Linked DNA regions of Homo sapiens: region 1 is linked to region 2. The links come from fine-mapping of genetic effects on gene expression. A gene starts in region 2. The other region holds a variant in brackets. All regions are shown on one strand. Distances are from middle to middle.

What was found.
Region 1: its variant is fine-mapped to the expression of ABHD13 in whole blood (INTERVAL, PIP 0.93).

The regions. Positions count from the first base shown.
Region 1 is chr13:108,253,595-108,270,582 of GRCh38, forward strand. It overlaps TNFSF13B (TNF superfamily member 13b), which reads left to right and starts at 16,124. Exons shown (of 6, transcript NM_006573.5): 1 at 16,124-16,640; 2 at 16,746-16,830. The coding sequence starts at 16,302. RefSeq lists enhancers at 16,160-16,589, 16,541-16,988 and a silencer at 16,950-16,988. The variant C/T (reference allele first, on the strand shown) is at 9,452.
Region 2 is chr13:108,213,842-108,230,179 of GRCh38, forward strand. It overlaps ABHD13 (abhydrolase domain containing 13), which reads left to right and starts at 4,551. Exons shown (of 2, transcript NM_032859.3): 1 at 4,551-4,818; 2 at 15,358-16,338. The coding sequence starts at 15,378. LIG4 (DNA ligase 4) reads right to left here and starts at 1,695. Exons shown (of 3, transcript NM_206937.2): 1 at 1,643-1,695; 2 at 697-769. RefSeq lists enhancers at 1,620-1,914, 4,224-4,553 and silencers at 1,758-1,897, 4,834-5,073.

The DNA of each region.
Region 1 (16,988 bases), 40 kb after region 2:
TTCTATTGCCTGAAGTTTTCTGTTTTCCATCATATCTCTGCCAGATTTGGTGACAGTATGATTCTGGCCTCACAGAATGAGTTAGAGAGGAGTCTCTCCACCTCAAATTTTTGGAATACTTTCAGTAGGTATGGTTCCAGCTCTTCTTTATACATCTGATAGTATTTGGCTCTAAATCTGCCTAGTCCAGGGCTTTCCCGATTGGCAGACTTATTACTGATTCAATTTCAGAACTTGTTATTGGTACGCTCAGCGTTTCATTTATCCTGGTTCAATCATGGGAGGTGGTATATTTCCAGAAGTTTACTGATTTCTTCTAGGTTTTCTAGTTTGTGTGCATAGAGGTGTTCATAGTACACCCCGAGGGGTTTTTGTATTTCTTTGTGGTCAGTGGTAACATGTGCTTTGTCATTTCTGATTGTGTTTATTTGGTTTTTCTCTCTTTTTTCTTTATTAGTCTAGCTAATGGTCTTTCTCATTAATTCTTTCAAAGAACAAATTCCTGGATTAATTGGTCTTTTGTATTTTTTTTTCACATCTTAATTTCCTTCAGCTCTGATTTTGTTTTTTTTTATTTTTTTATTTTATTATACTTTAAGTTTTAGGGTACATGTGCACAATGTGCAGCTTTGTTACATATGTATACATGTGCCATGTTGGTGTGCTGCACCCATTAACTCGTCATTTAGCATTACGTATATCTCCTAATGCTATCCCTCCCCCATCCCCCAACCCCACAACAGTCCCTGGAGGGTGATGTTGCCCTTCCTGCGTCCATGTGTTCTCATTGTTCAACTCCCACCCATGAGTGAGAACATGTGGTGTTTGGTTTTTTTGTCCTTGCGATAGTTTGCTGAGAGTGATGGTTTCCAGCTTCATCCATGTCCCTACAAAGGACATGAACTCATCATTTTTTATGGCTGCATAGTATTCCATGGTGTATATGTGCCACATTTTCTTAATCCAGTCTATCATTGTTGGACATTTGGGTTGGTTCCAAGTCTTTGCTATTGTGAATAGTGCCGCAATGAACATATGTGTGCATGTGTCTTTATAGCAGCATGATTTATAGTCCTTTGGGTATATACCCAGTACTGGGATGGCTGGGTCAAATGATATTTCTAGTTCTAGATCCCTGAGGAATCGCCACACTGACTTCCACAATGGTTGAACTAGTTTACAGTCCCACCAACAGTGTAAGTGTTCCTATTTCTCCACATCCTTTCCAGCACCTGTTGTTTCCTGACTTTTTAATGATCACCATTCTAACTGGTGTGAGATGGTATCTCATTGTGGTTTTGATTTGCATTTCTCTGATGGCCAGTGATGATGAGCATTTTTTCATGTGTTTTTTGGCTGCATAAATGTCTTCTTTTGGGAAGTGTCTGTTCATATCCTTTGCCCACTTTTTGATGGGGTTGTTTGTTTTTTTCTTGTAAATTTGTTTGAGTTCATTGTAGATTCTGGATGTTAGCCCTTTGTCAGATGAGTAGGTTGTGAAAATTTTCTCCCATTTTGTAGGTTGCCTGTTCACTCTGATGGTAGTTTCTTTTGCTGTGCAGAAGCTCTTTAGCTTAATTAGATCCCATTTGTCCATTTTGGCTTTTGTTGCCATTGCTTTTGTGTTTTAGACGTGAAGTCCTTGCCCATGCCTGTGTCCTGAATGGTAATGCCTAGGTTTTCTTCTAGGGTTTTTATGGTTTTAGATCTAAAATGTAAGTCTTTAATCCATCTTGAATTAATTTTTGTATAAGGTGTAAGGAAGGGATCCAGTTTCAGCTTTCTACATATGGCTAGCCAGTTTTCCCAGCACCATTTATTAAATAGGGAATCCTTTCCCCATTGCTTGTTTTTGTCAGGTTTGTCAAAGATCAGATGGTTGTAGATATGCGGTGTTATTTCTGAGGGCTTTGTTCTGTTCCATTGATCTATATCTCTGTTTTGGTACCAGTACCATGCTGTTTTGGTTACTGTAGCCTTGTAGTATAGTTTGAAGTCAGTAGCGTGATGCCTCCGGCTTTGTTGTTTTGGCTTAGGATTGACTTGGCGATGCGAGCTCTTTTTTGGTTCCGTATGAACTTTAAAGTAGTTTTTTTCCAATTCTGTGAAGAAAGTCATTGGTAGCTTGATGGGGATGGCATTGAATCTATAAATTATCTTGGGCAGTATGGCCATTTTCACGATATTGATTCTTCCTACCCATGAGCATGGAATGTTCTTCCATTTCTTTGTATCCTCTTTTATTTCATTGAGCAGTGGTTTGTAGTTCTCCTTGAAGAGGTCCTTCACATCCCTTTTAAGTTGGATTCCTAGGTATTTTATTCTCTTTGAAGCAATTGTGAATGGGAGTTCACTCATGATTTGGCTCTCTGTTTGTCTGTTATTGGTGTATAAGAATGCTTGTGATTTTTGTACATTGATTTTGTATCCTGAGACTTTGCTGAAGTTGCTTATCAGCTTAAGGAAATTAAAAACACATGAAAAAATGCTCATCATCACTGGCCATCAGAGAAATGCAAATCAAAACCACAATGAGATACCATCTCACACCAGTTAGAATGGCAATCATTAAAAAGTCAGGAGACAACAGGTGCTGGAGAGGATGTGGAGAAATAGGAACACTTTTACACTGTTGGTGGGACTGTAAACTAGTTCAACCATTGTGGAAGTCAGTGTGGCGATTCCTCAGGGATCTAGAACTAGAAATACCATTTGACCCAGCCATCCCATTACTGGGTATATACCCAAAGGATTATAAATCATGCTGCTATAAAGACACATGCACACATATGTTTATTGTGGCACTACTCACAATAGCAAAGACTTGGAACCAACCCAAATGTCCAACAATGATAGACTGGATTAAGAAAATGTGGCACATATACACCATGGAATACTATGCAGCTATAAAAAATGATGAGTTCATGTCCTTTGTAGGGACATGGATGAAATTGGAAATCGTCATTCTCAGTAAACTATCGCAAGAACAAAAAACCAAACACCGCATATTCTCACTCATAGGTGGGAATTGAACAATGAGAACACATGGACACAGGAAGGGCAACATCACGCTCCAGGGACTGTTGTGGGGTTGGGGGATGGGGGAGGGATAGCATTAGGAGATATACGTAATGCTAAATGACGAGTTAATGGGTGCAGCACACCAACATGGCACATGTATACATATGTAACAAAGCTGCACATTGTGCACATATATGCTAAAACTTAAAGTATAATAATAATAAAGTTAAAAAAAAAGAAAAGATTACATCTTTTCACAAAGAATACAGAGATAAAACCAAAGAGTCAAATGACTAAATGTAGTTGAACAACTGAACCAGAACACATTTTTTTCTGAGTGCTAGTCCGGGATTCTGTGTCACACACTGCTGTCCTCTTAAGCCTTCAACAACACACAGATCCTCTTTGAGGTGCAAAATTCATGACCTGCAGAAGTTTACAAAATGTAATAGGTTCCCTTGTTTGGGACACAGTGAGAATTATAAATTCACAAGTCATTGATATTAAAGAGAAATTGCAGAGTGACTTTTAAAATAATGAAGATGGTAAATTGTATAATATATGTGTATTTTACCACATTTTTTAAAGTCAAAAAAATGCTTTTGATAAAGGATTGAAGATTAGTATTCTGAAATGCTGAATTTTCAGTAGTCACTAGTAGAGTACAGTTTATACTTATTTGATTTGACTTGTTATCCTTGGTTAATTGTTGCTAGTGTTGGTGGTTGATAGTGATAAGATTTTCACATGAATTTTACACTGCGCCACTTGTCCTGAGTGTGGAAATATCAACATTGGTCTGGATTGTGTTTAAATTTTGAAATTGTTGAAAGCTCATTATTCAATTTAAAGTATGTAAACAGCTGTTGCCATGAGATAACAGATTATGCTTTTGGTTAAAATTCTGGGAATCACCCACCAGTTTTTGTTTACTTTTTAATAACCAGAGGCTTATATTTAAAATAGACAAAAAATTAGCAAGTGCATTTTAAATTTAGTAAATTTAGAAGTAACCAACGACAAGTACAATTATGAACTCATACTGTCTCCACTACTAGACATGTTTTATGACTGTCTGAAAGTATCTAAAACAGATTTTATGAGTTTTCATATAAAATTATATTTCTGTTTTAGCAATCAGTCATGGTAATCAAACAATTTGAGGACAAGAGTCTTTATATTTGAGTAGCAGAAAAACACAAGGGAAATCTTTGATCCCTGATAGATCATTAAACAAAATAGAATTTAATTTTACTTAACATCATGTGTACACACACACACACACACACACACACACACTTTTTCTATTGTTTTTTTTTCACCATGGATACCGTGGATAAATTCTCAGTAGTGAGACTGTTGAGTTGAAGTGTAGATATGTTTTTAATATTTCTAGTATCATTAGATTGGCTTCCAAAACAACCTTATTATTTTACATTTTCAAACAAACCACCATGGCACGTGTATACCTATGTAACAAAACTGCACGCTCTGCACATATAAACCAGAACTTGAAGTGTATATATATATATATATATATACACACACACAAACACACACATACACATATATGTGTATATATATACATATATATGTGTATATATACACATTATATATAATGTGTATATATACACATATATATATGTGTATACGTATACACATATATATGTGTATATATACACATACCATAAAGCTGAAACCACTAAAAAATTATAGCATTGAAGACAAAGCTATAATATAAACACAATGATGTCCAAAAGAATTAATTCTCATCCAAAAGAATTTAAAAAGGGATAAGCCAAAACAATCCAGGTAATGAAATTAAATAAAGATAGCTAACACTGATGATTAATTATATATTGTTAGTTAAAACGTGAGCAAAAGTCATTCTTTATATAGACATATGTATATATAAAGAATGACTTTTGTATATGTATATGTATATATGTATATGTATATATGTATATGTATATGTATATGTATATATGTATATATGTATACATATATATGTATATGTATATGTATATGTATATGTATATGTATACGTATACGTATATATGTATATATGTATATATACATATATATGTATATATAAAGAATGTATATATAAAGAATGTATATATAAGAATGTATATATAAAGAATGACTTTTGTATATGTATATGTATATATAAAGAATGACTTTTGCTCACGTTTTAACTAACAATATATAATTAATCATCAGTGTTAGCTATCTTTATTTAATTTCATTACCTGGATTATTTTGGCTTATTCCTTTTTAAATTCTTTTGGATGAGAATTAATTCTTTTGGACATCATTGTGTTTATATTATAGCTTTGTTTTCAATGCTATAATTTTTTAGTGAGTACTGCTCTGGCTCATATGTTTGGTATAAGTTGTTTTCCCTTTTGTGATTTTCTAGGTAATTTCTAACCTCAGTTTCGCATACTTCTTTGACACAAACTTGACCTATGAATGTATTTTTACATTTTCAAGTAAGCAACTCTTTGATCACCTTTTTGTAATGATTTCTATTTTTATGAGATTATAATCAATGAATGGGATATATCACTTAGGTATTACTAAGTAATAAACCACCCTACTTTAGTGCCCTGTAACAGCTCCCCTTTATTATTTTTGTAATTCTGTGAGTTTTTCAGGTGGCTCTTGTGCCAGCTCCACCTGAGTTCATGTGTGTGGCCGCATGCCTCTGACAGCCAGGCTGGCTGGGGGTTCAAGATAGCCTCACCCACACATTTGGCAGTAAGTGCTGGCAGGTGGTTCAGGCACTTTAGTGGTTTTCAATGTATCTTCTCATCCTCCAGTAAGCTAGACTGACTTTCTTGCATGCGGGTCTCAGGGAGGCAGTCCTGTGTGTTCTACTGGTCAAAGCAAGCAATTCACAAGGTCAGTTCAGATTTAGGGGATAAGGAGACAGACCAACCTTATTATCAGTCACATTGCAAACAGGCATGCCACCAGAGAGTAGTTCTTCCAGTCTTTGCAAACTATCCGTCATGGTAGCCTGTAAAAGACTACTTTTTAAAGTTGTCCATTTTGATTAAAATTTTAAGTATCACTTGTGCATTTGGGGAAAAAGTTATCTTTTTGATAGACATAATTTATTATCTCCCTCTCATTTTTTAATATCTTTGCACTAAGTGTTATAATGTTAAATAATATAGCATCAATAACCATAAAGCTGAAACCACAAGAAAAACACCTGGAAATACACAGGAAAAAACATTAGATATGGGAAATTTTACTCATCTCTATTATTCTATGACATCATATAAACAAAAATGCAGATATTGTAGACTAAAATAATAAAATTATTAAGGATATCCCTTCTTTTCAAGTAGCTATGTTACATTCACACAAATGACAATACTATTAATCCCTAAAGAAACTCTGATTAAGCTTTATAAGTAGAAATTGTGAGAGAAAATTATCTGAATGCAATACGATAAAATAGAAGTTAGTGAGAAAAATGAAGAAAATTTCTGGAAATTAAAACAAATTAACAAATATCTCTTAAATAACTTTTAAGTCAAATTGGAAAGCCAAACAAAATTTTTAGATTAATTTATATTATTAATCGTTTCTAGAAAATAATAAGCACAATATATAAAAAACACAATAATAATAAAACACAATACATACCTGATATCATTGAATTTTACTAAGCAATGCTCTTGGGAAATTTAATAGCCTATCAACAAATAAGAAAAGAAATGAATGTTTGAACACTCAACTGAAGAAGTCAGACTAAAGAAAACAACAAAACAAACAAGTAGAATGAGACAATTCATAATGATAATAAACAGAACTATCTGCTGATTACTTATTTGACACTAACAAAACAGACAAGTTTTTGCTATTCTTTCAAGAATAAAAGGAGAAATTGTATGCAGACAATTTTTAAAAAAAATGCTTAACCACAGATACAAAAGAAATGGAAAATCAGATGAGAAACTGTTTTGTATAAATTTATCAAGTAAAAATTGAAATCATTTAAAATGATCTTATACAATAGAATTTAACTCCATGACACAGGAGTTTTCTTTTTTCTTTCTGACTTTTTTTCTCTCTGTTTTAATTTTTGTATGCCTAGTACCTAGAACAATACTGAAAGAGTGGATGGTGAATATCCTTCCTTTGCAATTGGTTTAGCTACTTTGTTATTTCATTTTTTTTTTGTATTCAAGAGAAATGCATGTATACTCCAATTTCCCCTTAATTTTACACACAAATTTATTCATAATATCCTCTTACCTGTTTAGGATCTGTAATAGCTCTAAAATGTCCCGCTTTTAAAATTTCTGTTATTGAAATTTCATACTTTCTCCTTTGTACTGTGTCTTACTACAAATTATTAATTTTATTTGTTATGTCAAATAACCAATTTTTAATTCTCTTTATTGTAAAGTTATTATTTATTTCATTAATCTCTTTTATATTTTTTACTCCAATCTTTAAGCTTAATTTGTTTTCACCTTTTAACTTGTTAGGGCTTTGTGACCTGTATGCTCAGATTATTTCTTTCCATTCTTCTTTTTAAAACATGCCATCAAAGATATGATTTTTCTCATAAAAATAGCTTTAAATGCATTTTACAAGATTTTATATACTTTATTTTCATCATATCCCAACAACTCTTTCTATATTCAGTAATACCATCAGACCTTACCTGGGTCGATTTTTCTCAGCATCCTTTCCTTCCTTCCTCCCGTCCTCCCTTCCTTTCTTTCTTTTCTTTCTCGGAGTCTCCCTCTGTAGCCCAGGCTGGAGTGCAGCGGCGCGATCTCTGTTCACTGCAAGCTCCGCCTCCCGCGTTCACACCATTCTCCTGCCTCAGCCTCCTGAGTAGCTGGGACTACAGGCGCCCGCCACCACGCCCGGCTAATTTTTTGTATTTTTTTAAATAGAGACGGGGTTTCACCATGTTAGCCAGGATGGTCTCGATCTCCTGACCTCGTGATCCGCCCAACTCGGCCTCCCAAAGTGCTGGGATTACAGGCGTGAGCCACCGCGCCCGACCTACTTGCTTATTTTTCTTTTCCAAAAAGCTACCCATACAGATTTTCTCAGCATTTTAACCTAGGACTTGATAAGCTAATTCAAACTGTAGTTTCAGCTCTTTCATAGATTAAGAAGCATTATTCTTTTCTCCTGTAAGTTTTTATGTCATTGCCTCTATTTAGTCTATATCCTCTCCCTCCTTTTATGTTCCCATTTTTCTTGCATGTGAGTTGCAAAACACTCTTGAGTTTTGAGATTTTACTTCTATTTGAGCCTGCAGGCCAGTAACTCAGTGCTCAAAAGTGACCATCCTTTTCTTCAATGCATGTATTAAATTATTTAATTGAAAACTATAGAGATATTTTTTAGTTCCTAAAAAGTTTCTTCAGTTGAATCTTAAGTCCTCTATTAGTTTTTAAAATTCAAGTTGTCTCCATCCCTTTGTGTTGTGTGTATGCTGGGATGTTCTGTGCTCTCCTTCTTTGATGGTTTATCTCTCCCTCTCTCTCTCTTTTTTTTAATTTTCATTGGAAGACGTTTATTTAGTCAGCATTTAACAGAGAATAGCAGAATCCATGAAGGACAAGTGTTCCAGGCACTAGAGATACAATAGGCTAGAAACCACACATTTCTGCACTCATGGAGCTGAACACTCTTAGTTTATCATTTCTTTCTGTACATATCTTCCCTACTTCCACCCTACCCTCTGCCATAATCTTTTTAAAATATATATATAAATGGCTTCATTTTCACATTTCACACAACCACAGCTGTGCATGCAAAAACACTGCAGTCTAGCCACTATTTATACGTCCAGCCACTTCTTGCATCTCTCCCGATATCCCAATTTCAAGCTTTCTCTCTTCAACACCTCCTGTGTTTGATTTGATGGCTCAGCTGGGGCAGTCTAGCCTCAGGAGGTGGGAAATCAAGTCCTGTCTAACCCTATGAGCCAGGATTGGACTAACAGGGAAACTTCTAGTCTACTCTGAGGCATTTGGGGGAGGCTTTTGTTTCTTGTGATCCCCTGATAGTCTCTCAGCTTTAGGGGCAGGGAGGACTAACCCCAAGCACTTACTCCCTTTGTGGGTACTCAGAGGCCCGGGAAACTTGGCATATTCCTGTGAGGCTGATGTTAGCCACTGCCTGGGGCCCACAGATTTCTGCTCAACCATTCTATCTAAGACCCATTGAGACTTGGGTCTCACATATAGTACTGCAAATACTCTCGAGAAATAAACCTCAAACATTATTTTTCTCTATCTAGGGCCAATTAGAGCAAAAAGCCCCTCGCTAACACCCAATTACCTCTAAGTTCTACTGCAATTTGGCTCAGAGAAGAAAGATAATTTACAGTTGTTAGTAAAGGAGAAGAAAGATGCATTCATGTTGCAGTTTTCTCAGAATA[C/T]ACTATATCTCTCTTACTTTTTCTTAGTTTGAAATTATTCCCTTCTTACACGGAGATGCACAAATTCTAATTTTGCATTTTTTTTTCTGAAAGAGTTGACTACGTTTTTTTGGTTCCACATAGAAAAGACAGATTCATTAAACACATCTTCACATAATAATAATTTTTCTTAAGATTCCTAACATATTAAAGAGCTTAAATTATTAAAAAATAGCTATATTAAAACTGGATGTAAGACTCTTTTTTTTTTTTTTTTTGAGATGGAGTCTTGCTCTGTCGCCCAGGCTGCAGTGCAGTGGCACAATCTCGGCTCACTGCAAGCTCCACCTCCCGGGTTCACGCCATTCTCCTGCCTCAGCCTCCCAAGTAGCTGGGACTACAGGCGCCCGCCACCGCGCCTGGCTAATTTTTTGTATTTTTAGTAGAGACGGGGTTCACCGTGGTCTCGATCTCCTGACCTCGTGATCCACCCGCCTCGGTCTCCCAAAGTGCTGGGATTACAGGCATGAGCCACCGCGCCCGGTCAAGACTCTTCTTAACAAATGAATTAGTTTTTCTAGCTTGTGGGTGTTGACCTTTTCTCTTTACACCGTAGTTTCAAAAAGTGGACATTTGGAAAATTTCTGAAAGAACATTTAAAACTCTCTTATACAAAGTTCTTTGGTTGTAAGAATACAATTCTTACAACTAGCAGAATTAGTATGTCTTTGGATCCTAATCAACTGCTAATCTAACTAGCAGATTTAGGATGTCTTTGGATGAATTAACACCTAATCTTGTCTCACATTGGCGTAAACAGTTAGGAAATAGTATGATCCAAATAACAAGCATGAAGAGTTGAGTAATCCAGCAGGACAATTATGTCCTTACAGAGCCAGGTTCCCTCCAGAATCCTGTTCTTGCCGTCACTGTTTCAGTCTGGGCCTGACGGCAGTTGCAGGATGGCAGTTCTCGGTGATCACAGACAGGCTTGTAATGTCTAGTGGAAGAAGAGCATCTCTTTCTTGTCAATCTCTTTAAGAATGAGGAACTCTTTCTTAGCAGTGCCCCCAGGAGACCACCTCACAACCAACTGTAAAAAGCCTCTCTCATTTGTCCCTCCTTAGCAATCAGTGGTGATGTAGATGGAGTCATCGTGAGTAGATTTCATGATTAGGACTTCCCTAAAGTGTGAGATTATGTCGGCATCCCACAGAGATAGATATCTAAACAAAGTCAGCGTCTAGATTTGGGGCAAGAAAGATTCTGTTAAGATGGCGAAGCAGAATTGGGCATACAGATGCTTCTGGCTTCAGAGCCTACACTCCTAAACCCATCCTCTTCTCAACATTCAATAAGCGAAATTTCAAATAAATCATTAAAATATTTGCAGTCCATTTAATTTTAATTTATTTGTTTTATTGATACAAAACAGATGCACATATTTTCAGAGTATATGTGATAATTTGATACATCATATAATATGAAAAGAACAATTCAGAGTAACTGGGAAGTTAATCACCTTCAATATTTATCCTTTTGTTTTGTGGGAACATTAAAATGATTCTCTTCTAGCTATTTTGAAATGTAGAACAGATTAATGCTAACTCTAGTTGCCCTACTAATCTATCAAGCATTAGGTTTTATTTTTTCTAACATAAATCAACCTCTCTTCATCCCTCCACCCTTCTTCCTACTCTTCCTGGCCTCTGGTAACCACCTATCTACTCTCTATATTCATAAGACCTACCTTTTTAGCTCCCACATATGAATGAGAACATGTGATATTTGTCTTTTTATGCTTGGCTTATTTCATTTAGCATTAGTGACCTCTAGCTGGTGAGAATGTGGAGAAAGGGAACGCTGGTGCACTGTTAGTGAGAATGTCAATGAGTACAGCCACTATGGAAAACAGTATGGAGGTTCCTCAAAAAACTGAAAACAGAACTACCATACTTAAGCAATTCTATCACTAGGTCTATATCCAAAAGAAAGCAATCAATGTATCCAAGAAATGGATCCAAGAAATGGATTCATTCATCCAATCAATGAATCATGTTGATTCAGCACTATTCACAATAGCCAAAATATGGACTCAACCTAAGTGCCCATCAATAGATGAATGAATTTTAAAAATGTGGTATAATACAGTGGCCTACTATTCAGCCATAAAAAGTAAAATCCTGTCATTTGTAGCCACCTGGATGAGCCTGGACGACATTATATTAAGTGAAATAAGCTAGGCACAGAGAGACAAATACTGTGTAATCTCACTTATATATGCAATCTTACAAAGTTGATTTTATTGAAGTAGAGAGTAGGAGAGTGGTTACCGGAGGTATTGGGGTGGAGGTTTGTCACCTGGTACAAAGTCAGGGTTAGATAGGAAGAACGATTTCCAGTGTTCCATTGTACAGTAGGGCGGCTATAGTTAACAATAATATATTATATATTTCAATAGAGCTAGAAGACAGGATTTTCAAAGTTCTCACCAGATAGAAATGATAAATGTCTAAGGTGATGGATATGCTAATTTTCCTAATTTGATCATTACACATTGTATACATATATCAAAACATGACACTGTATCTCATAAATATATATGTGTCAATTAAAAATTTTTTAAATTAAAAATTATATACAGTGATTAACATTTAGCCTTTCAAATCAAATTTAACTATATAATAACTTAACACACATACTCTCTCTCTCTCCATTATATATAATATATATATAAAATATATAATATATAAATATTTTATATATATATAATATTTCTACTGGAAAACAGCATATTTTCCTGAAATGCAATACTTAACCTATATCATAAATCTTCCATATTCTGAGTGCTTTAGGATACCAATTTTATCTAGATGTAATTTTAGGTACATTTACAGATCGAGTACATTCACAGATCTAGAAGAGCTGTTGTCGCCATGCTTGACTGGTCTAAATCCTTTTCCTCAAAGGATTTTGAGGAAAACACGCTTTTCCTCAAAGAAAAAGGGCAAAGGAGAGATTCCTCAAACCTGTAATTCTTTATAGCACTATTTAGCCAGAAATTTATAATTCATTTTTAAAAATATTTTTGAGGTTGTCAATGTAAGAACATAGTCAGAGAGTGAATGTTTATTTTCTGCTGTTTCTGACTCCCGGACAAACTCACAAGTTATATTCTTTTGAATCCTATCTGCCTATTTCTGAGTGGATAGAACAGTTTCGTCAGTCACAAAGTCCTAGTATCTCAGTTTGTTTATTGAATGACAGAAGAATGCTTTACACTTACATTGAGAAAAAGATGTGTGTAAAAAGCAGCTAAATACTGTCAATAAACACTGAATGTATAATAAGATCGCTGCACAATCTGTGGCTCAGATACAGTGGCCTTTTGTCCCTGAATAAACTTGTGATGTGGTGTATTATTCAATGAACGTGAACATGCTTCTTGTTTAACAGAATTTCTGTTAAATTATTGCCAAACCATTTCCTCTTCCGGAAACAGATTCTTGATTTATGGAGTAATGACTTCCTTTTGTTCATCTAATAAGAGATTCAAGAGTCATGAATGTCACTTCGTTTTCTACCTGTCTTTAGAGAAAATGCAGCTGTCAGATCCCTGTGGAGGATGTGCACATTGCCATCCCTGCTTGCTGTCCCTCTAGCCAGAGGGACATGATGGCTGCCCTTTGTGGAAGAAGAACTTGCCCATTTTATGCATGGCACGGCTCACTGCCGCAACAAACATCGGCACTGGTTTAAAAATGGCTGCGTGCAGGCTGGCCAGTGACTCTCTTTTGAGATGTTCAGGCATGAAAGTCTCTGCCCAACACAGTGACGAAGGCAGAGGGAATTCCCTAAAGCAGTCAAATCATTCCCTGTCTTCAGAATTTTCTCTGAGGGATATAGAGGGGAACGACTCACCAGAAGAGGGAGAATGTCCATGGATGGAGAGAAGCAGTGGCTACAGGAAACCCTGAGTGAAACGCAGAGAGAAATTGCTTTCTAGCACTGCGTTGCATCCTTTCATTTCTGCATGTATTTAAATCATAAGAATACACAAACACATCATCTAAAGGATCTCAATGACTTTCAGTAAGAAGGCCTTCATACAATTCCCATACGAATTCCATTTTTTATGGCAAGGTTACTCCGTATGACTCACCCTAATTGTTCTGGAACAAGAACTGACAGAAAAGAATTGGACTGTCATTCCTGATGCAAAAGGGTTTACAAACATCCTTCTAAAAGAAGACTTCCACCTGAGAAGGTTGATGGAGGACCTCTTGTCTACGTACCTGTTAGACTGGGGCACGGTCACCTTATTGTGGGAGTTATAGGTAAGAAAAATTAGAGAGCAGCTTATTTTGGGGGCCAGGATAATAACAAGTTATTTTTAAAAGGTCTTGGAAACTTGCAGATGCAAAGGGAAAAAAACAAAAAACAAAAAACAATCCTAATGGTAAAAACAAGTAAGTCTGACTGCGTCATTTTGTAGTAAGACAATGAGGAAATGGGAACTCGTCAGAGGGTAACTGGGTGGTGCCTGTAAAAGTGAAGATGTGCTTCTCCCTCAGCAGGCATTTGCTGGGAAACCCTTGCAGACGTTACAAGCACAGTTGTAGAAAATATCTATTAGAGCACTGTTTGTAACTGAAAAATGTTTCATTCATACTTTGAATGTAAAGAATAAAAGTGAATGAAAAAATGGAAGCATTGCACCGTGCTTTTGATTTACATTTCCCTGATCATTTAGTACAACCACCATGGAAAACAGTGTGGAGATTCCTTAAAGAACTAAAAGTAGAACTACCATTTGATCCAGCAATCCCACTACTGGGTATCTACCCAGAGGAAAAGAAGTTGTTATACGAAAAACATACTTGCACACACATGTTTATGGCAGCACAATTCACAACTGCAAAAATATAGAACCAGCCCAAATGCCCGTCAATCAATGAGTGGATAAAGAAACTATGATACATATATATGATGGAATACTACTCACCCATAAAAAGGAATGAATTAATGATGTTCGCATCAGCCTGGATGGGATTGGAGACAATTATTCTAAGTGAAGTAACTCAGGAATGGAAAACCAAACATTGTATGTTCTAACTCACAGTGGGAGCTAAATTACAAAGATGCAAAGACATAGGAATGATCTAATGGACTTTAGGGACTCAGGGGAAAGGGTGGGAGGGGGGTGAGGAATAAAAGACTAAAAAATGGGTTCAATGTGTACACTGCTCGGGTGATGGGTGCACCAAAATCTCACAAATCACCACTAAATAACTTAACCATGTAATCAAATACCACCTATTCCCCAAAAACCTGTGGAAATAATTTTTTTTTAAATGGAAGCATCCAAAATGTAATTTGTTTCCACATTCTTGTAAGCCTCATTATGTATCCCAGGGACAGTTAATATCGTCATACGAATTCACAGGTGAGGAAATGGAATCACAGAGAGATTATGTACTTTGCATAAGGAGAGCGAGGGTGAGGCAGGATTTGCAGTCTAGAAGCCTGGGTCTGGAGTTCTCCACTTTGCACTATATCATTTCTGTAAACTTCTTACTTAAGACTGTGTGGAAATGTAGAGTGAGACAGAACTAAAGCTCACTATTCTTAGTCCACAGGGGAGTAGTGACTACCCAGGGCTTGGTAAGTGCTCAGTAACGTTTGTTGAAAGATGAATCAATATTTCAATGCTGGGGCAAAGCAGTGAAAAACTGGGGAATGTCCAGGAACCAGCCATCAGGATAAGGCAGGACTAGAATGAATGCAACAGTCCTCACAGGTCCACCAAGTCAACAACAGAAAAATCCAAAGCTAAGGTGGCTCTTGTGTGATCAAGGACCTCTTGTACACCGACCTGTTAGGCTGTGGCACAGTCAACATGGGAGTTGTAGACAAGCTACTTGAGAGTGGTTAATGGTAGCAGTCAGGCATTTGGAGCTGGAGGCAAGGCTGATTCTCCTCAACTAGTATCATATTGAGCGGGGACTTAAAGCCTCAGAAGTCTGAGCAGAAAAGCTGAGACCAGGCTCCTTGGGACAGGCTGTTCATATGCATGATTGAGTTTCAGTGATGAGTCCCAGAAGGAAAAAGTTTATGCATGTTTTCCTTAAAAATATATTCACTTATATTTAGAGAATCCTTCAGATATCTAACCTAAATACGTCTGTAACATTTACTCTCATTCTTTTTATGACATTATTAGTATAATAATATGAATAATTCCCAGTGGACTTACTTCCACACTTCCTTCAAGGATTCTCCATTTTATTTCATAATTGAAGACTGTTAATAAATCACTCTCTAGCTAAGAACAATTCAATGCTAAAACACTTAGCTTATCTGACCTTCACATTAATTATTTTTATGACAGCAGCAGGAACTTTCAGCTGCTTTTCCCCCTTCCTTATGAAGCCATGTGGTCCCAAGCAGACAGAGTTCCCTTGCTACACTTAAGGGTGGGCTTCTCAGACCTGAGCATATCTTAAAAGCTTTCCCTTGACTGTGCCAATCCAAACTCCAAGTTTCCTCAGCAGATTTAAGGGGTTTTAAATCTACTTGAGCATGAGTGTTATGAGAAGACTTTGAAATTCTTACAAAAACTGAAAGTGAAATGAGGAAGACAGATTGAGCAATCCAATCGGAGGGTAAATGCCAGCAAACCTACTGTACAGTAGGGGTAGAGATGCAGAAAGGCAGAAAGGAGAAAATTCAGGATAACTCTCCTGAGGGGTGAGCCAAGCCCTGCCATGTAGTGCACGCAGGACATCAACAAACACAGATAACAGGAAATGATCCATTCCCTGTGGTCACTTATTCTAAAGGCCCCAACCTTCAAAGTTCAAGTAGTGATATGGATGACTCCACAGAAAGGGAGCAGTCACGCCTTACTTCTTGCCTTAAGAAAAGAGAAGAAATGAAACTGAAGGAGTGTGTTTCCATCCTCCCACGGAAGGAAAGCCCCTCTGTCCGATCCTCCAAAGACGGAAAGCTGCTGGCTGCAACCTTGCTGCTGGCACTGCTGTCTTGCTGCCTCACGGTGGTGTCTTTCTACCAGGTGGCCGCCCTGCAAGGGGACCTGGCCAGCCTCCGGGCAGAGCTGCAGGGCCACCACGCGGAGAAGCTGCCAGCAGGAGCAGGAGCCCCCAAGGCCGGCCTGGAGGAAGCTCCAGCTGTCACCGCGGGACTGAAAGTGAGTTTGCAGCAGCTGCAAGACGCAGGCAAGATCCTGCCTACACTGCTGCCTCTCCCTCGCCTCAGCTGTCTTTCTAATAACTTGAAGTTTTTCTGTTCATAGATCTTTGAACCACCAGCTCCAGGAGAAGGCAACTCCAGTCAGAACAGCAGAAATAAGCGTGCCGTTCAGGGTCCAGAAGAAACAGGTATGTTTTGGGCACAGACACTTTTAGGAGTCAGGGATTAGAGAATAACATCCAGTCTGGGGGAGCTGGAGGTGAGTATCCCCTCTATGAACCTATTAAATAGAGACTATGAAATTTGCCATCCAAAGCAGACATTGCTTTAGAGCAAAGCCCCAGCG
Region 2 (16,338 bases):
AATCAGATAATCTACAAAATGTGCTTTAAAAAGTAGTAAGTCTTGATAATTTTAATACTATAATGCTTGCTGATCCAAGCAACATTTAAAATATAAATATTGCAAAATATTAACGAGATAAAAAGGTGGGAAGAAGCTTCACTCTTTAACAATAAGCAAAGCTTTCAGGAGAATGAATGCAAGCAATTAGTACACAATAACGATTCATCATTCATTCAGTTCTGACTAAATTGTCCTGAAGTGACACATGAAAATAAACCGGCAGGTTTTATTCAGTGACTATGGAAGGTGATTAAGTGCTATGCTATTGCACTTAAAAAAGAGAGAGGAAAAAAAGGAGTAAGTGACGAATGCAACTGAAGTATCCTTCATGCAACCCTTGACAAGCTGTGTTTCCCTAGGAAACAAAGGGTTTACAGCTGCCTATCTTCCACAGCACTTAGTGACAATTTGGGACAATCTCAGCAAAAAGAAATGAGCAGACAAAGACGCTAGAAGGGCTTTGGGATCCCAAAAGTTAATGAAAGACCAAGTGTAAGAAGAGAAATAAAGTAATTCCCTCCAAGCCTAAAGTCTCTCCCGCTCCAATGCCCCCTGTACCCTCTCGGAAAATGGAAAATCCCTAAGGAGTCTACATCATTCCTCTGCCCGTTCCCCCTACTCTCCCCCAACCCTTCACGGATTCCCAGTGAATACCTGGCCTCGGGCAAGCTCCGTTACCTCTGTGAACCAGAGAATCCCAGCTGTAAAATGAGATCTTGATGGTTTCCTGCGGGGTTGCCATGAGAAAGAATCAACATGTACGCAGGTAAAGCAGGCAATACAGTTCCAGGGAGTCAAAAACGGGAGAAATCGTCCCACGACCTGGGGCTTGGGTCTAGATGAAGAGCACAGCATCAGGAGGCCAGGCTTCTAATGCGGCGCAGTCTACAGCGCTGTGGACTCGGCAACTCCCATCACCTGCCGCTGCACAAACACCCTGCTTGCTGCCCCCATAGACCGACCCCCGCCTGACGCCTCCCAGACCCCCCCACCTGACGCCCCTCAGGCCCCCCGCCTGACGTCCCAGACACCCCCACGACCGGATCCCCCAGACCCCCAATCTGACGCCCCACTTCCCCTACTTGACTCCCCACACATCCCCCGCCTGACGACCCCCCGACCCCCGCCTGACGTCCCAGACACCACCCATCTGATCCCCCAGACCCCCAATCTGACGCCCCACACCCCCCACTTGACTCTCCACACACCCCACACCTGCCACCCCACGTAAACCCCGCCTGACACCTCACAGACCCTAACCTGACGCCCCACAGACCTCCCCCGCCTCCTGCCGCCACACACACCCCAAACCCCGCCCCGAACACCCCCCACCTGCCGCCCCACAGATTCCCCCCTCTGACGCCCCACAGACCCCCAACGTGACGCCCTACAGACCCCAACCTGACGTCCCACAGATACCCCGCCTGACGCCCCACAGACCTTCCCCCGGTCTGTTGCCCCACAGACTTCTCGCCGCCTGCTGGACCACACCTTCCACTTGACTCCCCCCACACCGTCAATCTGCCACCCCCCACCCCCCCCACCCCAACCCCCCCCAACCTCCCAACCGCCCCCACCTGCCACCCCACACCCTTCCCACCTGACGTCAAGCCTGAAGCTCAGCCGCTAAGCCGGAAGCTGGCGCCAGAAGATGCCGGTTCCGCCAGCTGCTCGCCGCGCAGGCGCAGGGGAGACCCGGGGCCTTGCAGTCACCGGGCTCAAGCACGCCGGCGCAGCCAGGCTCGCGATGGGAGGTGGGGGGGCCGGCAGCCCCGTGGGGCTGCGGAGGCGGGACCTGCAGGATCCTGGTTAGGGTCTTGAGTACACACGGCTCCTATTGGCCTCGGCAGCAGATGCTCTCTGCAAGCAGTTGATCCACACGCCAGTGGATTTTGTCTCGAGGGAGACCTAAGATCACTTTGTGCTCTGGCTAGTGATAGCCTCTAATTCTTGTTCTCTGTACGTAAAACAGTGGTAACTATACTGATTTCGCTGGTTGTGAAAACTCCCAAGAGAGAACAGGACATCCTCCCAACTCAAAACGTTGGTTGTTTCATTTAAACTTTTAAAAAATAGGCTTTTGCAAACTATATAGAGCTGTTTTTTTTTTTAAATGATGTTTGCTACTGTGGTCTCAGTTCTCTTAATACAGAAATAATACATAACAATACATAACTTACAATATAGAAATAAACCGTTGCATGACCAGAAATCAACTATGGACTCTTCTAGTATCTGTTTAAGGTTTAAAAATAAAGTTATTTAACAAACCTTTATTGAGCACCTATTATTATATAGTAATGGTGCTAGATATTCAGGGTGGAGAGATTATAAACAACCCCAGTTTTTGTGTTCCAGGAGCTGTTGGTTTCCACCGAATTTTTGCTGTGGTCAGTCCTCTTTCGCCATGGAGAAGTGAGAAGTTATTCATAAAGAGGGGTGGAAACAACTTTTAGAACTATTTTATTTTAGCATAAAATATTGCTTTACAATAAAATAAATTTTGCTGCAGTGGGCCCTGATAAAACATATTAGAGCTGTTAAGTGCCCTTAGAGGTTGTGTAATGTATAAAAACCTCCTTTTTCAAAACTGACACATTTCATTCAGTGCTAGTTTGTAGCGGAGGTTCCGTCTAGCCCAAGAACATTCAGTTATTTACTTCGTATGTCTAATTGACCTAATATGCCTGAATATCTAAAATCATCTGTGATGTTGTAAAGTCTCATGATATTGTTTTGTGAGTATCTGCTCTTCAATTTAGTTATCAATTTATTTTGGAGGAAAAATGAATAGTGTTAAGGTAGAGGAGCCTCCACTTGCCCATCTTAGGAGAGGGTACCTATCCGTGTACATTTGTAGCTTGTTCAACCTCTACTGAGCTCCTACAATGTCAGAAGCTGGACTTTGTATTAGTTACATGAGAAGAACCATGAATTATGAAACCAGGCAAACTCCAAATTGATTCAAAGCCCAGTCTCCATTTCATCATGTTATTTTAGTTGATTGGTTCAAAGACAATCAAGGGTTTTTTTCACTAAGTATCTTCTAGAGTTGCCATGATTATTAATTTATTTATGTAAATGGTCTACTTTATATATGCTTGGCACTTATTCCGTGATCAAGATTAGGAAGCTATGATTCAAGAACCCAGCTTTGACCTGGAGCTCTCCATCTGGTAGCAAGACACATATGTTCAATAACAACAACACCACAGGCCGGGCCAGTGGCTAATGCCTGTAATCCCAGCACTTTAAGAGGCTGAGGTGAGCGGATCACTTGAGGTCAGGAGTTTGACACCAGCCTGGCCAACATGGTGAACCCCCGTCTCTACTAAAAAATACAAAAATTAGGCCGGGCCTGGTGGCTCACGCCTGTAATCCCAGCACTTTGGGAGGCCGAGGTGGGTGGATCACCAGAGGTGGGGAGTTTGAGAGCAGCCTGGCCAACATGGTGAAATCCCGTCTCTACTGAAGAAAAATACAAAATTAGCTGGGCGTGGTGGCGCATGCCTGTAATCCCAGCTACTCCGGAGGCTGAGGCAGGAGAATCGCTTGAACCCGGGAGGCGGGAGGTTGCGGTGAGCCGAGATCTTGCCATTGCACTCCAGCCTGGGAAACAAGAGCGAAACTCCGTCTCAAAACAGCAACAAAACAAAAACAAAAAGTAGCGGGGCGTGGTGGCGGGCACCTGTAATCCCAGCTAGGTCAGAGGCTGAGGCGAGAGAATCGCTTGAACCAGGGAGGCGGAGGTTGCAGTGAGCCGAGATCACGCCATTGCACTCCAGCCTGGGCGACAAGAGCGAGGCTCCATCTCAAAAGGAAAAAAAAAAAAACCCACAGATTTATGAAATATCCTCTGTATATATAAAATAGGGGACATAGAATAAGGAAAGCCCAAGGGAGGGGAGGCACACATCTGTAAACAAGTGTGTACACTTCAGTGCACAGGGGGGTTGACAGCGAAGCTAATGAAGCCCAAGTTTTAAGGGCCCATTTTTGCGAACACTTCCAAGGCCTTGAGAGGGGCCCTAACGAGGTGTTCCCATGGTCGTGTACCTCGGTAAAATTTGCAAAAATAAGACAATTTTACATTATTTTTCTTTAAAAGGGCTCTCCAAATGGCACAAGGTTCAGGCCTCACAAAACCTGCATTCGCCCTTGACAGTCCACTCTCGTAGAGGTAAAAGGAGAAAAATAGTTATGGAAGCGCTTTAAATCGTGGACCTCATTGCGACACCCTTAACAACCCTATCAGGCAGAACAAATTGCTCCGCAAACCTGCGGCTTGCAGAGCGATGGTGGACTCCCGAGCTCATCGGGTCCGGCACCTCTTCACCACGGAGGCCTCGGGTACGGAACTGGAGGGAGTCCTGGTGCTCGGAGGAGGGTGGAAGGCCAAGATCCCTAGGTCCTGGAGCAGGGAGCCGGGCCCACGCCGCCGAGGTATCTTTTCCGTCCGGGCCACCGTCGCGGGGGCTCACTGGCAGCGGCTTCTGCGCATGCTCGGAAGAGCGGGCAGGGTTCCCACTCCGGGAGCGGAGACGGAGAACAGGTTATGTGGGAGCCGGCGGGGGCATTTGCCGGCGACACCCGAGCGGGGGCCGGAAGTGGGGCCACAGCTCGCAGCAGGAGCTCCGGGCTAGACCGTGGCGCCGGCAGCGGCCCCTGGGCTGGAGGAGGATGATGAGGAGCGACGGAAGCGACGCGGGGGTACGCTGCTGCGCGGCGCCCGGTTTCGTGCCCGCGGCCGACTGCGCAGCCTGTCCGCGAGTCTGAGTAAGTGCGGCTCGGGGACCCCGAGCCCGCGGGGCCCGAGCGCCGGTCCGCTCCTTCTAGGAGGGTCGCGGGGAGCCGCCGGCTCCTCCAGGCGGGCGCGAAACCCTCCCGGGAGGCTGTGGGGGGAGCCCCGGGGCTAGTGCGGCTTCCCCTGGGGGTCGTGCGGGGGCCGAGCGCCGGGGGTTGTGGAGGACCAGCCCGGGGTGCAGCCCTGCCGGCCGCCCCGACTCCGCTCACCACTCACCAGGGGAAGCAAACTGAAGCCAAATACCTGTTTTGGAAACTAAGGTGCGCGCATTGCCAGAGGCTCGCCGGGTGTCGTTTTGTAATTGGAACCTAAAACGTATCTTAGTGTTCTATGTCAATTGTATTTCCAGTAATGTGTACAAACCTAAGATCCCTAAAATCCAACCCTCCGCTCCCCCACCCTCCCACACAGACATGAAAAGTAAAATAGAATAATTCCAGCTACTAGGTTGGAGAGAGGGAGAGCCCCGATCTAATCACGACAGTAACAGGTTTAGACCTGTGAATATCATGACAGGAAGTTCTGGGGTTATTCAGGAAACATCAAAAAAGCACCCCATACAATCGAAGTCAATTTTGCTGTAGATTTTAGTCAACATTTAAGTAAAATGAATTACTAGTATTACTACCCAAGGTATCGAAACCAAAAAAAAGTCCGTCCCCATTTAACAACTCTTATTTATGTTTACTATGTGATAGTAACTGGATAGAAAGAGATGAGTATATTGGCTTTGTGTGTTGATATTGGATTTTTCACTGATCTCTTTTGACGGGAGGGGGTTCGTGGATCAATACTTATTTGTATGCATGCTTAGGGAAATCACTCGTCTTTGACTAAAATATCAAATTTTATTTTACTGTGTAAGATTTCTTGATTGCCGATTTAGTGTTAATGTCATGATATCCTACCTAAGACATCAGCTGCTCAATTAAATAATCGTTAATAGAGGCCCACTATGCATCAGGCACTGCTGCGTACAGAAAATGTAGAGTTGAATAGGACGAGGTCTCTGTCATCGAGGAACTCACAGCCTGTGTAAGCAGGTTAATTACGCTGTAATAGTAACTTCTGCCACGTAAGTTTGCACAAACTACAGAATGTGGAATGGGTGGCAGGAGGGAATAGGGGTCCAAGGAAAGCTTTCTAGAGGATCTACTACCTGAGTTTGGTTTTAACAGAGAAAGAGTGCATTGCTCTGATTACTTCCTGTGTTCAGATACGGTACCTCTAGGGAATCATATCCATTATTTGATCTAGGACTAATAGGGCTTCTAGTTGTCCTTACTTTCACATACTCTGCTATAGTACATAATTAAGTAATTTAAATTTTGTCTCATAGAAGTAGCTGCACTTAACACACTATTACATTTTATCTCAACAGTAGTTCAATTTAATCTTTCATCCTCCTTTTACATACGAGGAAATATATATTTAGAGAGGCTAAGTGAGTTGGCAAAAGCTACCTATCTCTTAACAGACCATGACTCAAAACACTGTCTCCTTTCCATTGCACCACACTGCCTCCCACTGACAGTTAACTTGGAATGATTAAAGCAAGCCAGGTACCTACAGGTAGCCCTTGGCACACTGCCCTCTTCTTGGGCACATCAAAGACCTCTTGGCATGTGGATAAGAGGGTTTACTAACCAAATTGCCCTGGGCTAACAATATAACTTAGTGATAGGTGCAGGAAACTGTTGGATCTAACATTTTCCCATGATCTCTTCTCATAACTTATCTCAGGGGAATCTATTTCTGTTTCTCTGTTTAATGTATTACCCAGATTCTGAAATCTTTCTAATCCTTGTTTAGTTGCCCCAGGAAAGTCTTAAGACCTTTAAATAGCCTTTTTTCGTGTGGACTTAAAAGATGCTCTAGTTCTTCTAAGTAAGATATTTTTCCTCAAATGACAGATTTTGTAATACATTATTATATTTTATGTTTCTGTTTCACATGGTGTGAACTCCTACAACAGTATATTCTGCTGAAATCCCTTGCAAAGATGTAGTATTTCCAGTACAGGGACTACATGCATTTATGAGCTAGCCTGAGAATCTAGATACTTCTAGTAAGGCTTCTAGTTGTACTTACTTTCACATACTCAATGTTATATAACACTGGTTTTATACAAAACAAATATTCTAAGTTTCATCCATCTAGTTTATAGGTAAAGTTTTAGAACATTGCCCATTTATAAATTGGAAACTTTGTGAATTTCATTATCAGTCTAACATCACTACAGTTTTAGGCTAGTGGATTTGTTTTAAACATTTCAGATATTTATAATCTCAGAACAAATTGTGGTTGGCTTCCATAGTAACAATAATCTCTCATTTTACTTCTGCCAGAGTTGACTCTATTTGCCAAGATTTTCAAGCATGAAAAAGCTACTAAGTAGCTGCCTGGTATAATTTTTGAGCTATCTGCTCATACAGATTTAAATCCTAGTTAAAGATGCTGTCTGAACCATCCAGTTATTATCCAGCATCTCCATAGGCAGTTACTGTTCATTTGTCCCATAGGACTATTAATACACACTTTTTCATTATTGATGGCATGTGGGTAACCATTAGGGAAATAGATAATTCATTCTGTGGTGTCTCCAACACCTTGATAGCAGCTATTTGTGTTTCCATTTCAGCTGTGCAGCTGGCATGGTTTCTTAACTTCCCAATGCTTAACAGAAGAGGAGAGAGATTGATATAAGAATACTGAATCTGAGTTCCACATTACTTCACATGTGATTGGAAGCTGTGATTCACCCAGAGTAATTAATGAGCCCATGGGGTGTGGGGTCCTCATTCTCTGCTGGGATGTGGATGTCGGCATTGACACACGAACTCCCTTTCCACTTTTTACAGTCTTCACTTGAACCTGCACATTTTTTTTAAATGTATGAACAGTTTTTATTTTTAAACAAGCTGTTCCCAAAATTATCAATCTAGGATGGACTTAAAGATCTTTAAAGAAATAATAGTGCCTTTATGACTTAGGACTTTTTAATTGTATTTGAAATTGTTTAGCCTTTTGCCAAATTGTTTTTCGGAAATTCATTGTAATTCACTATGGGTAATGCACTTTTTTGTATTTTTAAAAGACCATTTGCTGGTGGCAGAATCCGTAACTCGATATACAATATGCAAAACAATGTACACTTTTTTTTTTTTTTGAGACATAGTCTCACTGTGTCACCCAGGTTGGAGTGCAGTGGCACGATCTCAGCTCCCTGCAACCTCGACTCCTGGGTTCAAGTGATTCTCATGCCTCAGTCTCCCTAGTAGCTGGGATTACAGGCACGCGCCACCATGCCCGGCTAATTTTTTGTAATTTTTAGTAGAGACGGTGTTTTACCATGTTGCCCGGACTAGTCTCAAACTCCTGAGCTCAGGCAATCCACCTGTCTTGGCTTCCTAAAGCGCTAGGATTACACGCATGAGCCACCATGCCTGGCCCAATGTACACTTTTTAATTAAAAATAATTAGAATAACTAGAATTTAATTTGTAGGGCAGTTCTGACCTTCATTAAAATACAATTTTTATTGTAAAATGTTATCTATGATACAATAGATTTGTCTAATTTATTCTCCTACTAACCTTACGGCAATAATTACAATGTATTTACTCCTATACTTTTGAGTTTCAGTTCTTGATATATATAAGTTTTTATTTATTTTTAGTTTTTGGAGAAAATATTACTGGGTAAAAACCTTAAATATATTTATATATGTTATAATGCAGAAAGGATTTAAAAAAATGTAATATATCTTTCTTAATTTGAAGAAGGCAAGTCTCTGGGGCATAAGGCAATACAGTTATATGGTTAAATAGTATGGAACCGTGGTTCTCAAGCTTTTTGGTCTCAGACCGTTTACATTTTAGAAATGTAAAGATCCCAAAGATTTTTTTGTATGTATGTGGATTATATAGATATTTATTGTGTTAGAAATTAAAACTGGAAGTTTATAAAGTGTATAAATTAAAATTGGAAAACTGGAAGTTTATAAAGTGTATAAATTAAAATTGGAAAACTGGAAGTTTTAATTCATTTAAAAATAGCAGTAGTAAGTTCATTACATACTCACATAAATAAAATTTTATATAAAACAATTGTAATTACAAAAAATAGAGGTGTGGGATTATATTTTTGTAATTATCTTTAATGTCTGCCTCATAGAAGACAGGCAGATTATTAGGCTCTTAAAGTGAAACATGAAGAAAGTCAGGCTCACACAAATTTGTAGTTGTAAAGGGAAGAGTATTGTAGTAGAGAATTGTGGGTACTCGTTGGTACGACTCCATCACCCAACAGGAGGCACTTCCTTAAAGGTCAGTTATATTGTGCCATCTGAAACCTACATCAGAGAAATTGTTGTCTCTTGTTACATCAAAATCTGTTGGTTTGTAGTGAATTTTTTACTCACGTTTGCTTGATTTTGTGACACCATTCATTGGTCATTTGGAATATATTGGTTTATGGAGTTATGCAGATTTTTCCAAATGGTGACATGTTTAATATTAATAGATTACCACAGTGCCATCAAAAAGGTCCCTTAAGTGTCTAGGAGCTATTGGCAACCTCATTCATTTTCTAGTAAATATCTGCCAAACCTCTAAGTCTGAACAACCATAGTTTGTCAGTTGTCTTTTTAAATAAAAATGTTGTTACCTGAACAAAGCAGCTAGTTCAGCTCACAATTCAAATGTATTTCAATACATAGCACAAAATGCTTTATGTGCACTTCCAGTGTTGTCACACATTTGTCACACAATGTGTTAAAAAGATGTGTACTTGTTAGTTGAGATAAAATAATTTTTACTGCTTCTTCTTTGACATTCTTAAGTAAAACTGGATTATTCCCTCATTTACCGTGAGCTCATGGTGATAAAGAATACAGTGACTCCAACACGTGAGGCCACTACCTTGATTCTTACAAAGGCACCAGCAATTTTACCCATCATTGCTTATGCATCATTAGTGCAAGTGTCAAACAGTGAAAAAAGTAAATGATATTTTAGTATTATTATGAGCATAATACTGATCTTGTGGACCCCATTAGAGGGTCTTGGGGACCCTCAGGTTTCTGACCACCTTTTGAGAACCACTGGCATAGAAAGATCTCAGATTTAATAGAGCCCTCAAAGTTCATCCAGTTTAACAGCTCTAAATTCCTCTATGCTATCCTTGCCAAGTATTTATTTAGATTATGCTGAATACTTGCAGTTTCTGTGAATAATCGTGCTAAATGAATAAAAATAAGTGTCACAGACAGCTGTTTGATGGAAAGTAATAGAGATTCTTAATCCTGGAGTTATGTTTTGTCCTGCTTTTAAAACATTGCATAAGTTTCCACTTGGTTTCTCTAAGTAATCAACCTTGATGAAATCCAGAGACTACTAAAATTATGTTGTGAAGGAAAGATACAGCTAAGGTTTTGATTTTCCTTTGCTATATGTAATGACAATTGTCATCTTTCTTTGATTTTTCTTTGTCTGCTCTATAATTAAATGAACTTACGTTAGGTATGTAGTTATTTATATCCATATCTGTCTCCCGAGTACCTCAAGAGTTGCTTGAACGTTACTGAGTAGATCACAAGCTACTTGAGAGCAAGGACTGTATAGTATACTAGGATGCATTGGAATCTGATGACCATCTCTTACGGAAGAGGCTGGGAAATCAACTGTAGGCCTGCTTCAGTGGTCCACGCTGGGTTTCACAGCTCCCCTGGGAGCCTGCAGTGATATTCTGAGGACTCATACCATTCGTAGTGGGCATGACTTCAATATTGATCTCTTTTTCTAAAGCATCAGTTTATAAAATAGTTATTTAAATGAAATATTTTTCCTTAAAAATGGAACCATTCGTGATCCTATATGAACACAGGAGATGATTAGTAGACATCAGAGAAGCATGGCCATCACTCATGCCCTTAGCTGACTTACCATCCAGCTAACACTGTTAGCCAGCAAGGTGGTCTGAGAGCTTTACAGTTCTAGACGGCTCTTATTTTTAGTCTCAAATTGTTTATTGTATACCCGTCATGGACTTAAATTTAGAGACAGTAAGTAGGGAGCACTAGAGGTGACTACAACCAGCCAATTAGGACCATAAATCCTCAAGATGAGCACCATATATTAAATTGCATCAGATGATCAAACTACTTATGTAGTATAGCAGGATGTCACTAATACTGCAAAACCATTCTTGTAAAAGGAAAACAATCATATCTAATTTATACAGTACATGATAATAAAGATTAGTTATGCTTTCAGTAGATTATTTTTTGAGACACACTCACTAATATCAATGTGACACCTCAAACCACTTCATTTAGAAAGCACAAAAGTTGTTTCTAAGGTTGATTTTTTTTTCATTCAAATACAAGACTGGTACAGGTTATAATAAACTGTAATACTTAAATCTTAGCTACATATCCTGGGTTTTTAAAAAATGTATTTGTTTACACATCATGCTTTTTTTGTGTATAATTAGCATAAAGTCTGCAAAACGTTGGGAAGGGAGCAGGATGTGTTTAGTTTTGGATAAGTTTGAAATATCAGTGAAGCATCAGGTACGTGAGGAACAGGTAAATTGAGATTGTAGATGAAGAGTAGACTTGTAGATTGGGAATAATTCATACACAGGTGTGATAATTGGAGCCATGAAAAGGAATGAAATCACTGAGGGAAAGAACATAGTATCCTAAATGAGTGGAGAAGACCTTGGAAAATGCCTGCTTTTCGGGGTATAGGGCAGAGAGAAACAGCAATTTGAGTGTAGAGGAGAAGCCAATAGCAGATGACACTTTGGGGGTCTGGTGTTGCAGTGTGGATTGAGAAAAATCCACTAGATTTATTTTAAAGTGAAGTTTACATTGTATGAGAGATCATTATGAGAAGTCAGTCAGCAAGTTCTCAGATAGTAAATGGTTAAGGAGTTACTGGCGGTGGTTAAAACCACAGATTGGTGGGTTTTAGAAATGTCTGACATGTAATACCAGATCTGATAACATAGCAAACAGAAAATTGAGAAATGGGACTGTCAGGTATTCATTTAAGATGTAGACATAAGGTTAAAAATACATACAATAATGATGTAAAAGAAGACTGGAAGATGAGAAGTTATTGATTATCTACATTTCTATATTCTACATGGAACAGGTCTAATTGGCTCTCCTACTCAGCAGCCCTTCTAGTTGGTATAAGTTTGAGTGTATTAAATGCATCCTTTTTCCTGATTTTTATGATGCCAAGATGTTATCAGCAAATGGATTTCACATGCAGAAGAACCCAACAAATAATACATCTCCTCTGAAGACACGTTTTATAGGTGTTTTACCACATGGGACATACTTGATTGCTTCACTCATTCTTCATGACTAGTAGCAGTGGTCTTGGGGTCAATTGGACATTGATACTCACAAGACCCAGTATACCATAGTGGACCGTACTGTGCATCAGCCTTTCTGCTTTTTTGAAAACCCAACATGTCAGTGTTAGGTATATTGTTCCAGATGATAGCTCAGGTCTAGTGGAAAATGACACAAGGGTGGGAGTGAGCACCACCCTGGCTTAGCTGCTTCATGCTCCACAGGAAACAGTGTCTTTTTGTGACAGCATGTGAGTATAGCATCCAGGACTAAGCAAATGACAAGCCAATTACAGGTCGTATTCAATTCAGAAAAGCCCCTGTTTATACTTCCCACTGGGCATGTTTAGCCCTGCTCACTGTCCTCTCAGTCCAGATGTAGCTCATCAGTAGGAGCCATTTTTACTACACTGTTGCTTAGAAACACAGCTGATATCCCACCTTTATCAGGTTTCCAGGGAAACAGTGCAGGAAGGTTAAGGAGAGGTCATTTTTTATCTGAAGAGGGAGAAAGGTTTTGTTAACCGTTTACTCACACTAATTTATTGACAAAATCAATAGAAAACATAATGCTGGCTGTAGGATCCATGCAGTCGACTTTATTAGAGGCAGTGTTTGTTTCTATTGACTGTCATAACATCTGGGTATGAAGTTGTTTTTACATCTCAGCAGATGGTGCATGGTAATTATGCTTTGCTGATACTTTCAGCAAATTCAGTAAATTAAAAATCCTTCCTGATATTGTTCACTTGTCCTGGTTCCTTTAAGATCACCTTTGAGATGGAAATATATATCATACAGACTAGGGAACAGAGATTATTAGCAAGTGGGGTTAGGTAAAAATAAGGCAATCCGTGAGTGGAGTTCTTACTCTAAACCAGCAATATAAGAATATGTTAAGGAGAAAACACACCCATACCCACGCACTCCGCCACCCCAGAGCAATTTTTATTAACCTGTTCTTAAAAATGACTTCCATTTGATATTACTCAAGATGAATGGACTTTTATTCCGACTTCCATAGTGCAACAACTGATTGTGAGATTATGATTGTTTATCACAAAACAGTTTAGTTAATGTGACTTTTCAGGAATGTTTTGTGGAAAACGGTAAGTTTATCCCTTATTATTCCTAGCCAGTAATAGACCCAAACAAATACGCCCATTTTTCTGATGTTGTTTTAAACATATATGCCCACTGCTCAGAATACTTTTTTTAAAATAAATTGAATAATTCGTATATGTAATTAGATTATTTTAAAAATGTTTTAGTCGTAAGTATATATAAAGTGCTGTACTAGATATTAGAGATGCAATAGTGAAAAAGAGATATACAATTCCTAGTCTTATAAATTTTAATTCAGTATTTGCTAAAATTAGATGTTAGAGGCTACTAAAACGAAAATAACTTTTCAAAGTTCATTAGTTGAAAATTTAACTATGTAAATTGATATAAATGTAAATATAAGATTCAAATTTTAAAATATGCCTTATTCGTGTATTTGGAGCTATTTTATCTGGTTTTATATAATTTTTTAAGTAAGAACTAATTTGAGCAGAACACAGTAAGAAAGTAGTAGAGCCAGAAATACCAGTCACAAAAGCAAATAAAGTTAACATGTCTGTAACATTTATGAATGATCTCATTATTAATCTTACTTGATACTAATGACCAGCCTCATAGGTAAGCATTTTAAAAACTCATTCTACTGAAAAGGCAATTGAGACTGGAAATAAGTGATAAATAGTTATTCAGGGAGGATGTGATACTGTAATAAAACTTGCTACCACTGGGTGGCAGTGTTGATTTCTGGGAAATCAGAAAAATGTTGGTTTATGCTCAAAAAGGTTCAGTTCATTTGAATAATAATTCAAATGTAAAAGTCTATGTTTAGTGAAATAATAGAAAAAAATCAAATTTGTTAAATCATCCAACTCATTATTTGTATAATCAATCTATAACCTCTTTATAGCAGTTTGGTCAGTGGGAAAGAAGGAAATGTAGTATTTTTAAAAGTTCAGTAAATAAGCATAAGTAGACGAATAGTACATAAGAAAATTTGTAACATATCTCAATTCTTTTGCCTTTTTAAGACAACATGTATAAACCTTTTGATAACAAAAAATTCTCTTTTAATAGTTTTTACTTTCTTTATATCAGTTAACATATTTTAGTAATCTTTTTAAGAATTGTTCTCCAGTGAGTCATTTTACTTTATTTATCTCTGTTTCTCAGAGGATTTCTGTGTATTTGTTTCACACTGAACCCTCAAGTATTTATTGCCTTATCAATACATTTTAGCAATCTATTGACCCCAGGACGTGAAACTTCATTAAAGAGTATATAAAAGATACTGCCGATCTCATGACACTAGCAATATGATATTTATTTTTAATTACATATGAAAGATAAATCATTAATAATTTTCTTAAAACTAATACAATATTAGAATCTAGTGTTTAAGCAAATTATTTAAGTTTAGTATTAAAACTTCGAGGTAGAGGGGGGATACTTTTATTCTTTCTTTCCCTAGTTGTTTTTTTTTGTTTTATTTTGTTTTGCCCAACTCCTTACCCTAGTTTCTTTAGTTTTTGCTACCGTATGTGAAAAAAATTGACAAAGTATATTAGATTGGTCTTGCTATGTTGGAATTTCTGAACTGCCTTTTCAGTACAGTTTGCCCTGGACATACGTAACCTAACAGCAGATGTACCACAATCTCTAGAATCATGCTTGTTTGCCTCCCAGCTCTTCTACATTGAGAAGCAGATGATAGCCAGTCTACTTATGCCCCTGAGCTTCTGTTTTCTCATTAAAAAAAAAAAATGACACTATCGCATCAACTTTTTTTGGGTCAAATCCGTGAGAACACGTATATGAAGAATAAGCACTTGTTAAAAATGAGTTAATTTGAAGAATATTAGTGTTTCCTAAATATGACAGTGGAGGGATATGGTAGAAAGGAAACTGTTGAGAACAGAAAGGACAAGGGAAATTATAGCAGCTACTTTTGTGGATGGACTGTACCTATTACCATATTTAACAATTACATGTGGCCTAGTACCATAGTTTATTATATTGTGGATTTTTAAAAGAATAGATAGACGTTGAATTATTGATATTCTCCCTCTCTCTCTCTAGGATACTTACAGAGAGCTACAATGGAAAAGTCCTGGATGCTGTGGAACTTTGTTGAAAGATGGCTAATAGCCTTGGCTTCATGGTCTTGGGCTCTCTGCCGTATTTCTCTTTTACCTTTAATAGTGACTTTTCATCTGTATGGAGGCATTATCTTACTTTTGTTAATATTCATATCAATAGCAGGTATTCTGTATAAATTCCAGGATGTATTGCTTTATTTTCCAGAACAGCCATCCTCTTCACGTCTTTATGTTCCCATGCCCACTGGCATTCCACATGAAAACATTTTCATCAGAACCAAAGATGGAATACGTCTGAATCTTATTTTGATACGATACACTGGAGACAATTCACCCTATTCCCCAACTATAATTTATTTTCATGGGAATGCAGGCAACATAGGTCACAGGTTGCCAAATGCATTACTTATGTTGGTTAACCTCAAAGTTAACCTTTTGCTGGTTGATTATCGAGGATATGGAAAAAGTGAAGGAGAAGCAAGTGAAGAAGGACTCTACTTAGATTCTGAAGCTGTGTTAGACTACGTGATGACTAGACCTGACCTTGATAAAACAAAAATTTTTCTTTTTGGCCGTTCCTTGGGTGGAGCAGTGGCTATTCATTTGGCTTCTGAAAATTCACATAGGATTTCAGCCATTATGGTGGAGAACACATTTTTAAGCATACCACATATGGCCAGCACTTTATTTTCATTCTTTCCGATGCGTTACCTTCCTTTATGGTGCTACAAAAATAAATTTTTGTCCTACAGAAAAATCTCTCAGTGTAGAATGCCTTCACTTTTCATCTCTGGACTCTCAGATCAATTAATTCCACCAGTAATGATGAAACAACTTTATGAACTCTCCCCATCTCGGACTAAGAGATTAGCCATTTTTCCAGATGGGACTCACAATGACACATGGCAGTGCCAAGGCTATTTCACTGCACTTGAACAGTTCATCAAAGAAGTCGTAAAGA